4 separate regions of the Homo sapiens genome follow, and all the other regions are linked to region 2. Evidence: fine-mapped expression QTL. A gene starts in region 2. Each other region holds a variant in brackets. All regions are shown on one strand. Distances are between the middles of the regions.

Region 1 (2,605 bases), 71 kb after region 2:
TATTGTTTTTGAAATATTTATATTAACAATATTTCACCCATTCAAACTTAATTCAGGGAGGGCTAAGTGTTTTCTATGTTTTCTATGATTTAATAATTCCTCCTCTGCAGTTTTTTTTTATTTTTTATTTTTTATTTTTTAAAGATGGAGTCTTGCACTGTCACCCAGGCTGGAGTGCAGTGGCACAATCTTGGCTCACTGCAACCTCTGCCTCCTGGGTTCAAGTGATTCTTCTGCCTCAGCCTCCCATGTAGCTGGGATTACAGACATGAGTCACCACACCTGGCTAATTTTTTGTATTTTTGGCAGAGATGGGGTTTCACCATGTTGGCCAGGCTTGTCTCGAACTCCTGACCTCAGGTGATTTGCCTGCCTTGGCCTCCCAAAGTGCTAGGATTACAAGCATGAGCCACTGCACCCGACTTTTTTTCTTTTTTTTTTTTTTTTTGAGACAGAGTCCTGCTCTGTTGCCCAGGCTGGCATGATCTCGGCGGCCCACTGCAACTTCCACCTTCCAGGTTCAAAAGATTTTCCTGCCTCAGCCTCCAGAGTAGCTGGGACTACAGGCATCCACCACCTCGCCTGGCTAATTTTGTATTTTTAGTAGAGAGGGGGTTTCATTGTGTTGGCCAGGGTGGTCGAACTCCTGACCTCAGGTGATCCACCTGCCTCAGTCTCCCAAAATGCTGGGATTACAGGTGTGAGCCACTGCACCCAGCCTCCTCTGCAGCTCTTACAATAAATGCTGAGCTGGTTAAGAAATACGAAGCATGCCAAGCAAACCTAATTATCCTAACATCTCTCCTAGTTATAAGGTAAAATAAAAAATTATGGCTATTTTCCATGGGCTCTTGGGGTTATCTTAATAATAGTTCTAGGTATAAATAATATTCTGAAAATATTACTTTTTATTTGTCCTAAATGTAGGACCTGATCTTGGGAGAGCAAATTCGAAAGGTCGTAGGAACAGAATTGATCACTTGATGTAGACAGGGTCTTGGGTGACTGAGGAGCAACATTTAGCAACTTAACCTAATTATAATAAAATATTAAAAAATAAACCAAAGAAAATAATACAGCTCCACAGAAACTTAGTACTTCTGTTTTTTTTAATAATCATAAAGTCAACAAAACACAGGAAATTATTCTAAGACATGGAAATTTTTATCTGTAGGCAGATTGAAGAGATGATAATTAATAACCTTTCACGTTGTAAATGAAGTCATTAATCAATAAACCCAGAAAGCAGGTCCATCAGAACTGACCAAAGTTTGCCAAAATTTTAGTAGATAATTTCTTTTCATAATTTCTTTTCAGACTCAGATGCTTTAAACCAAGGCAAATCCAATTCA[T/C]TCTGCTTGAGCTTTGTCCTTCATTATGCTCTTTCTTCCTCTAACTGGAAGAAACTGTTACTTTAGGACTATTTCTTTTCATTTGAAAAATAAACATACAGGTTATTTTCCTTGTTACTATTGTTCTGATATAGTTTTAGCCACCTATATTATTATTACTTTTAATCAAAGTAATTAATTTCTGTTTTGCAGAAAATTGGGAATAGGTAATTGACTTCTGTCATATACAAGCATTTTAGCAGATCATCAAAGATCTTGAATACACAAAGCACAACTTTCTACAGCCACCCAATCCTTTTATACTTTCTTAAAGTGGCAAAAATGACTGAAAGATATAGCTGCTCTATTGCATATGAAAATAAGAAGCAAAAGAAAATAAATTAAAATTATTCTTAGTATTCAATGCTTGTATCCAATATTTTCCTTTTATTAGCTCACTTTAATATTAGTTCCATGTTTTAGGTTTTCTAAGACCTTCAAAATTATGTTTAAGCTGACATACAATAAAACATAATTTCTGCTGATATTAAAAGTTCACTCAGCAAAGAAGTTGAGGTTCCATTGCCACTTGGAAGCCACTCTGAGAACTAACAAAAGATGTGCCTGGACTTAGGCAGCTCATGGGGTGCCTGTCTCATGCAGTGCAATTCACCTGACTCCTTCAGGAGAGTCACTGGAGCAGCTTAGTGGATGATCTTCAAAAGTGCTAAGATAGTCTCAGAATGGCAAATTCATGACTCTCATGGAAATTTAAAATAAACATGTATCAACACTTTACATAACTCTTTAAATAATGAGGAAACTGGTAAGATATTAAAATCAGTTTAAATCAAGATTTGACCTCCAGTGATTTCTAGTCTCTGTGGGGCAAAATCCATTTACATAGTTATAGAGAGGAATCATTTTTACTGCTATGGAAGAAAACACTTTTGTTTGTTTAAAGGAACTTTTATTAAAATTTAAAAAGTGTAAACTATACTGATAACATTCTTTTTTACTGATATATAAAAATTATACATATTTATGGAGTACATGTGATATTTTGAGATATGCATAAATGTGTAATGATCAAATTATTTAGAATATCCATCATCTCAAACATTTATCATTCGTCTTGAGAACATTTCAAATCTTCTCCCTATTATTATTATTATTATTATTTTTAGAAAAGTCTTGATCTGTTACCCAGGCTAGAGTGCAGTGGCACCATCTCAGCTCACTGCAACCTCCACCACCTGGGTTCAAGCGATTCT
Region 2 (2,605 bases):
GCGCTCTAACACTTCCTAAGGAGAATCTAAGAGAGCTCACAACACCTTCGCAGCGTGGGCATTAGACCTGGTTTGGAGAAGTGAAAACTGAGCAACAGATTCCTCAGCTCCAAGTCTCATCTGCTCATCACACAGCAGCCAGGCCGCGGCTCCGCCCCACTGCTGCCGCCACCACGGACGCGTTTAAATTTTTATAAAGCTTCACACTTCTCTAGGCGCGATGCTTGGGGCAGTTCAAAGACTGCAGAAGGAAATGAGGTCCTGCCGGTGGCGAAGGCTGCCCCGGCGCGGTGAGATTTCCTCCAGCAGGGACACCTTGGGCAGAGACCCGCCAGGCGCCTCTGCTCCACCCCGGCGTTTTTGAAAGTAAACTCCTACCTGCCTGTTGCGCTCTCCGAGGCGCAACCGGACTCGCCCCCCAGGCCTCCAGGGCCGGCTCAATTTTTTGTGAGCGAGGTGTGCACACAGACCAGCTCTGTCCCGGTTCCTGGCGAAGGGCCAGGCGGCGCCCGGGTCGAGCCCCGCCAGGGGTGGGAACCCCGGTGCGCGCCCGGCTCCCGCCCTGCACGGCTGCTGCAGCCGCCCGGTGCCTCCAACGCTCGGCCACTCCCTGCCGGCCTGCCCGCCGCCCCGGCACGCGCACCGAAGGGGCGCACTCCAAAGGCCAGCCCGGGGAGAAAGGGACGTCCGAGGTGTGAGCAGGGAACCCCGGGACCCCAAGGAGTGGGGTGCGGCGGAGATCGCACGGCAGGGCCAGGAGGGGCGCAACGCATGGGGAGAAGAGTGGAGTCAGAGGAAGCACTACCCGGAGCGCTCCGGAGGAGGGGAGGGAGCCCCCGGCCCGAGGCGGGAGCCGGCCACCCGGGGTCGAAGTCCGGCGGGGCGAATGCGGGAGGAGGGCGCAGGGGCACGCGGGGTCCGAGGTGGGGGCGTCTCCCAGCCAACGGTCTGCCCCGGGGACCGCCGCCGCGCAGCGCTCGGCCTCTCGCGGGACTCACCTCCGCGCCGGCCGCCCGAGCTCCGCGGCCCGCGGTCTCGGCTCACAGCGGCCCCGGCTCTGCGGCCTGCGCTGGGCTCCTGGAGAGGCAGAGCCCCGCCGCCGCCGCCGCTGCACTGCTGCTTTCCGCTTCCTGTCCCGGCGCCGCCCCGCAGCCCGAGCCCAGCCCTGCGAGCCCGGCGCGGCCGCGAGCCAAGAACAGCTAGCGCTGCCGGCCCCGCCGCGGGGCCGGCCCACCTGCAGCGGAGGGCGGGGCTCGGCCGGCGTCCCCCTCACCTCGTCACCGCCCCGACCCCACACACCCGGGACACACACGAAGGCGTGCGCGGTCACACTCTTACACACGGACCAGGGAATGACACCTCCCACACTCATTCACCCTCATACACACACTCACCCTACACAGACGTGCACAGCCCAGTAACCCACTCTCTTCTGGGCAGACACACACACTATAAACACATGGCCCAGGGATTGATCTCCGACACCGCCCCCTCCCTCCCCCACATACTTGGAATCTCAAGCTCACACACACACACACACACACACAATCATGCACAAAATCCGAGCCCATTTGCCCTCACGAGTGCCCCCATCCACATATTCACACGGCTCAGGGACTAACCCCCCAACCCCACTCAACACACACTCATATACACACTTTCCAAGAACTGACCGACAAATATCCATATACACCATATCTCAACCCATATACACACACTTAAACTCACATGTAGCCCTGGAAATGACCCCACAAATAGACACACACACACACACACACACACACACACACACACCCCCTACAAGCCACCACAGCAAGCCTCTCCCCTCCTCCTCCCTTATCAGAGCAGGCACTGCCGCCAGCCTAGTCTCCTAGAAACTGCTAGATGAGCACATCTCTGCAGGCAGGTAGCTGAAGCTTCAGTGCTGATTCCAACCAGGTACTGTTTCCTTTCTGAGCCTTTGTTTACCTGTCTGAAAAGTGGTGAGGATGCTGCTGTCCACCTTGCAGGATTGTGGTGAGGATTACAAAACAGTTGGCAACGATTTTCATGAATATTTGCACTTTTCTTAGTTGTCTTGTGTTGGTAGCATTAGGGTTCCTTACTGATCATCTCCAATCTAGCTGGGACCCAAAGCTGCTTACGTGGCAGGATTTTCCAGTGGAAGCAGTGTATAATGAAGTGCTGAATTTCCTAAGAGTTGTCTACAGGAGTATTGCGGGCATTTGGGGTGGGGAAATGCAGGCCCACCCTGACTAGCCTTAATCAGGGAACCTTGGCTCCAAGAACCCCTCACTCCCTTGATCACCTCTTCCTCATCCCTTCTAGACTCCATTTTCTCTCGCATATGTCACATTTCCTTGAGAAGACACCCATATGTTCAATGTGGCTGATTTTCACCACTCCTAGTCCCCAGGCTCTGCTGCCCCACTCAGTGGCCTAGACCATCTTCCTCCCCCACCCCCAGCCTCCCAGTAGGCTCCAGAGAGCAGATGTTGCTGACTCAGGCAGCCAGGTTCCTATGGGTAAAGCCAATGGTCTATTCACCCAAATCAGCACTCAGGGTCAGAAATGTAGAACATTATAAAAACATGTCTCTCTCATC
Region 3 (2,605 bases), 21 kb after region 2:
AATCCTCTGAATGGATAAGAGGGAACAGTACCTAGAACTCACACAGGAATGTAAATAGTGCCTGTTATGACCAGCCAGGCTGAAAAACCTCAGTTTGTGGAGCACTGGGTAGTGTAATCAGAAAGGTATTCCCTCAGTAGTGGGACAAAAAGCCCCCTAGTTGAAACATTGCTCAGGTTGTGCCAAACAAAGCTTAGAAGCAAGACCTGAAAGTGTCAAACTCTTTCTAATAACTCTGTATTACAGAACAAAGTTCAAGGATATTTATGAAATGCACAAATATCTGTCACCCAATAAAGCAAATTTACAATGACTGAGATCCTATAAAAATTACCAAACATATAAAGAAGTATACAGGAGAAAGTGAGCCATAACAGGGAGGACAATATATCAACTGAAACTCACAAAACTGACATAGATGATAGAAGCAGAAAAACAAAATCAAAATGGTCATCTTAAGTTGTATCTCATATATTCAGAAACTTAGGTGAAAGATTAAACATGATAAGTAGAGAAACGAAAGACATAAAACAAACCCAACAGCATGGTAGTGGGTTCATTGGGGGCCCTTCTCTGTGGGCCTCATAGCGTACCCATGCCAGTGTAAACTTGAGCCTTGAACCATTGCCCAGCCTCCTTCCCATGGGCTGTGTGTAGCGAAGGGGGTTGCACAGTGTCAAACAAGCAAAAAAATCCAAGTTGAGCTTCTAGAGATGAAAATTATAATTTCTGAAATAAAAATTACACTAGATAGGATTAACAAAAGGTAAGACATTGCAGAAAAAAAATTAATAAACTTGAGGACATAGCAATAGATACTATCCAAAATGAAACACAGAGAAGGCCAGGCACGATGGTTCACACCTGTAATCCCGCACTTTGGGAGGCTGAGGTGGGCAGATCACGAGGTCAGGAGTTCGACACCAGCCTGGCCAACATGGTTAAACCCCATTAAAAAATACAAAAATTAGCTGTCTGTGGTGGCAGGTGCCTGTAGTCCCAGCTCCTCAGGAGGCTGAGGCAGGAGAATTGCTTGAACATGGGAGGCAGAGGTTGCAGTGAGCCGAGATTGC[G/A]CCACTGCCCTCCAGCCTGGGCAACAGAGTGAGACTATGTCTCAAAAAAAAAAAAAAAGAGACATAGAAAAAAATTGAAAAGTGAGTCATGGGTATAATATACATGTACTAGGGGTTTCCCAGGAGGGGGATAGAAAAAATACATGAAGAAATAATGGCTCCCAACTTTCCAAATATCATGAAAATGATAAACTCTCAGATTCAAGAAACTCAATGAAACTTGAAGAAAATTGCTCAACAACATCAAATTGCTCAAAGCCAGTAACAAAGGGAAAAACATTTGGGGGGATGAGGGGCACAGGGAATGGAGACATTACATACAGAAGAACTAAGAGAAGAATAACAGCAAATTCATCATCAGAAACAATGCCAGCATGAAGACAATGGAGTAACTTCTTTAAAGTACTGAAAAAAAAAATGTCAGTTTAGCATTCTACACAATATACTTTTATATCCACTGAAAATATCTTTCAAAAATGAAGGCAAAGTAGATAAATTTTTAGACTTAAAAAATCTGAATGTATTAATCACCAGCAAGTTTATGCATCTTCTGCAATGTCTAATCAGTTGTTAATCCCATTCAATGTTTTTTTTTTAAATTTCAGACATTGTAATTTTTAATCCTTAAAGTAAGTTTTATTTTGGTCTCTTTTATATCATCCATGTTTTTACTTAATTTTTTGGAATAACTATTTTAATGCCTTTGACTGCTAAATTTAACATCACTATTAATTCTGTGTCATTTTCAGATTATTTATTTACCCCCTTATTTTAGTTAATATTTTCCTGCTTTTCATGTTTTGTAATTTTTTACTGGATGCTAGACATTGTTAATTTTACCTTGTGTGCTGGATATTTTTGTATTTCTATAAATGTTCTTGAGCTTTGTTCAGGGATGCAATTAAGTTACTTGGAAACAGTTAGATCCTTTCAGGTATTGCTTTTAATATATGTTAGGTGGGACCTGAGTCATATTTAGACTATGGCTCATTATTTCTAAACACTGAGGAAGATCTTTTGGAGTACTCTACCCAATGCCCCCTGAATTGTGAGGTTTTCCAGCCTGGCTGGTATGATTAGGTACTATTCCTAGTCACTGTGAATGCCGTGTACTGTTTCCTCTAATCCTTTTGGGTAGTTCTTTCCTCAGTCTCAGATTGTTTCCCCTCACCCACGCACTGATCAGTATCCTGTAGAATACTTGAGAGAGACCCTCTGCAGATCTCAGTTTTCTCCCTCTGCAGTTGTTGACTTTCTGGTACTCTCTACCGAAAACCCTAGCTACCTTAGTTTCCCTGGACTCTCAGCTCTGTCTCCTCATCAGATAGTATTCTAGGCTTTTCCTGGGTTTGCTTTCCCTGAACCAGAGCCAGGAACTCTCCCAAAGGAGTATACCTGGGCAATCATAGGTCTCACTTTGTTTGTTCTCTATCTCTCAGGAATCACTGTCTTTTGTTGACTAATGTTCAGGGTACTGAAAATAATCATTTTGCATATTTTGTCCAGTTTCTTGGTTTCTGGCAGGAGTGTAA
Region 4 (2,605 bases), 68 kb after region 2:
CCCAGTCTCAGGTATTTTTTTTATAGCAGTGTGAAAACGGACTAACACATATACTGTAGTGAATTACACAGATTATTACATGTTTTGCAAGAGCAAATTATATTTATTTGAAATGGGAAGAGAGCATTTTATTGCATTTTGTGTATTATATTTATTTTCCAGAATACGGAAAGAAAATTAAAGTAAATGTTAATAAATGCTTTCTAGAGAGTAATAAAAAATAGACACAAAAACAAAAACATCACCATTACAGATATAAAAAATCTCTTTTTCTTCTCAGTGTGCACCAAATACTTAGTTGATTTGAGATAAACGTGGACAAATAAAGGAAAAGGGGTGTCAAATGGGATTATTTGTCATCTCTCTCAAAAGAGAATAGATGTCTATCATTTATCTAGAAAAATAACCCAAATTGTGAGTGCATAAAACCAAATTCTCAATTATTGCTGCTACCAGTAGAGAATAACTTTTTGATCAAAAAGTTTCTTTGGCCAAAAACAAAAAAAAAAAATTCAGTAAAGATAAAAAACCTGGAAAAAAGGAGACTTAACGTAATACTGTAATTAATTCTTTGCTACTGGGTTTTCCATCAGTAGTAGTTTGCCTTCATAAAGCTGTTTGCTTCCTGAGTAAAACTAGACATGGAAATCCTGCTTAGCCCACTGGTACAGTCTGAGGTTCTCTAAGCTGTGTAATCTTGGAATTATGTATTCAAGAATCTATTATTTGAAATATTGTATTACTCTGTTTTCATACTGCTGATAAAGACATAACCAAGACTGGTCAATTTAAAGAAGAAGGAGGTTTAATGGACTCACAGTTCCATCCATGTGGCTGAGGATGCCACACAATCATGGCAGAAGGTGAAAGGCACATCTCATATGGTGGCAGATAAGAGAAGAGAGCTTGTGCACAGAAACTCTCATTTTTTAAAACATCAGATCTCGTGAGACTTATTCACTATTATGAGAACAGCACAGGAAAGTGCCGACTCTATGATTCAGTTATCTCCTACCAGGCCCCTCTCACAATACGTGGGAATTATGGGAGCTACAAGATGAGATTTCGGTGGGGACACAGAGTCAAACCATATCATTCTGCCCCAGCCCCTCCCAAATCTCATGTCCTCACATTTCAAAACCAATCATGCCTTCTTAGCAGTGCCCCAAAGTCTTAACACATTCCAGCATTAACTCAAAAGTCCACAGTCCAAAGTCTCATCTGAGACAATGCAAGTCCCTTCCACCTAAGAGCCTGTAAAATCAAAAGCAAGTTAGTTACTTCCTAGATACAATGGGGGTACAGGCATTGGGTAAATACAGCCATTCCAAATGAGAGGAATTAGTCAAAACAAAGGGGCTACAGGCCCCATGGAAGTCCAAAAACCAACCCGGCAGTCAAG[T/A]CTTAAAGTATCAAAGTGATCTCCTTTGACTCCATGTCTCATATCCAGGCCATGCTGATGCAAGTGGTGGCTTCCCATGGTCTTGGGCAACTTCGACCATGTGACTTTGCAGGTTATAGCCCCTCTCCTGGCTGCTTTCATGGGCCAGCATTGAGTGTCTGCGGCTTTTCCAGGTGCACAGTGCAAACTGTCAGTGGATCTACCATTCTGGGATCTGGGTGACCTTGGCCCTCTTCTCACACCTCCACTAGGTGGTGCCCCAGTAGGGACTCTGCTTGAGGGCTCTGACCCCACATTTCCCTCCCATACTGCTCTAGCAGAGGTTCTCCATGAGGGCCCCACCACTGCAGCAAACTCTTGCCTGGGCATCCAGGCATTTCCATACATCCTCTGAAATCTCGGTGGAGGTTCCCAAACCTCAATTATTGACTTCTGTGCCCTTGCAGGCTCACCACCACATGGAAGCTGCCATGGTTTGGGGCTCCCACTCGCTGAAGCAACAGCCCGAGCTGAACCTTGGCCCATTTTAGTCATGGCTGGAGTGGCTGCAATGCAGATCAAGTCCCTAGACTGCACACAACAGAGGGACCCTGGGCCCGGCCTGGGAAACCATCTTTTTCTCCTAGACCTCCAAGCCTGTGATGGGAGGGGCTGCTGTGAAGACCTCTGAATGCCTGGAGAAATTTTCCCCATTGCTTGGGGGTTAACATTCATTAATTAACTCGTTCCTTATGCAAATTTATGCAGTGGGCTTGAATTTCTCTTCAAAAAATGGGTCTTTCTTTTCTATTGCATTTTCAGGCTGTGAACTTTCCAAACTTTAATGCTCTGCTTCCTTTATAAAACTGAATGTTTTTAACACCACCCAAAGTCACCTCTTGAATGCTCCTTAGAAATTATTCTGCCAGATACCTGAAATCATCTCTCTCAAGTTCAAAGTTTCACAAATCTCTAGGGCAGGGGAAAAATGCCATCACTCTGTTTGCTAAAACATAGCAAGAGTCACCTTTACTACAGTTCCCAACAAGTTCCTCATCGCCATCTGAGACCTCCTCAGCCTAGACCTTGTTGTTCATATCACTATTAGCATTTTTGACAAAGCCATTCAACAAGTCTCTAGTAAGTTCCACAAACTTTGCCACACTTTTCTGTCTTCTTCTGAGCCCTCCAAACTTCCAGCCTCCACCTGTTACCCAGTTCCAA

The links. PIP is the estimated chance that this variant, and not a neighbour inherited with it, causes the effect.
Region 1: its variant is fine-mapped to the expression of VANGL1 in whole blood (TOPMed, PIP above 0.99).
Region 3: its variant is fine-mapped to the expression of VANGL1 in whole blood (TOPMed, PIP above 0.99).
Region 4: its variant is fine-mapped to the expression of VANGL1 in whole blood (TOPMed, PIP above 0.99).

What each region holds. Positions count from the first base shown.
Region 1 is chr1:115,569,329-115,571,933 of GRCh38, reverse strand. No RefSeq gene overlaps it. Among named protein-coding and RNA genes, the nearest start is that of VANGL1, 71 kb to the left of the region's middle. The variant T/C (reference allele first, on the strand shown) is at 1,353.
Region 2 is chr1:115,640,480-115,643,084 of GRCh38, reverse strand. It overlaps VANGL1 (VANGL planar cell polarity protein 1), which reads right to left and starts at 1,115. Exons shown (of 8, transcript NM_138959.3): 1 at 999-1,115. RefSeq lists an enhancer at 500-1,258 and a silencer at 394-1,383.
Region 3 is chr1:115,619,943-115,622,547 of GRCh38, reverse strand. LOC124900438 (small nucleolar RNA SNORA42/SNORA80 family) reads left to right here and starts at 543; the gene lies at 543-676. The variant G/A (reference allele first, on the strand shown) is at 1,074.
Region 4 is chr1:115,572,962-115,575,566 of GRCh38, reverse strand. No RefSeq gene overlaps it. Among named protein-coding and RNA genes, the nearest start is that of VANGL1, 68 kb to the left of the region's middle. The variant T/A (reference allele first, on the strand shown) is at 1,403.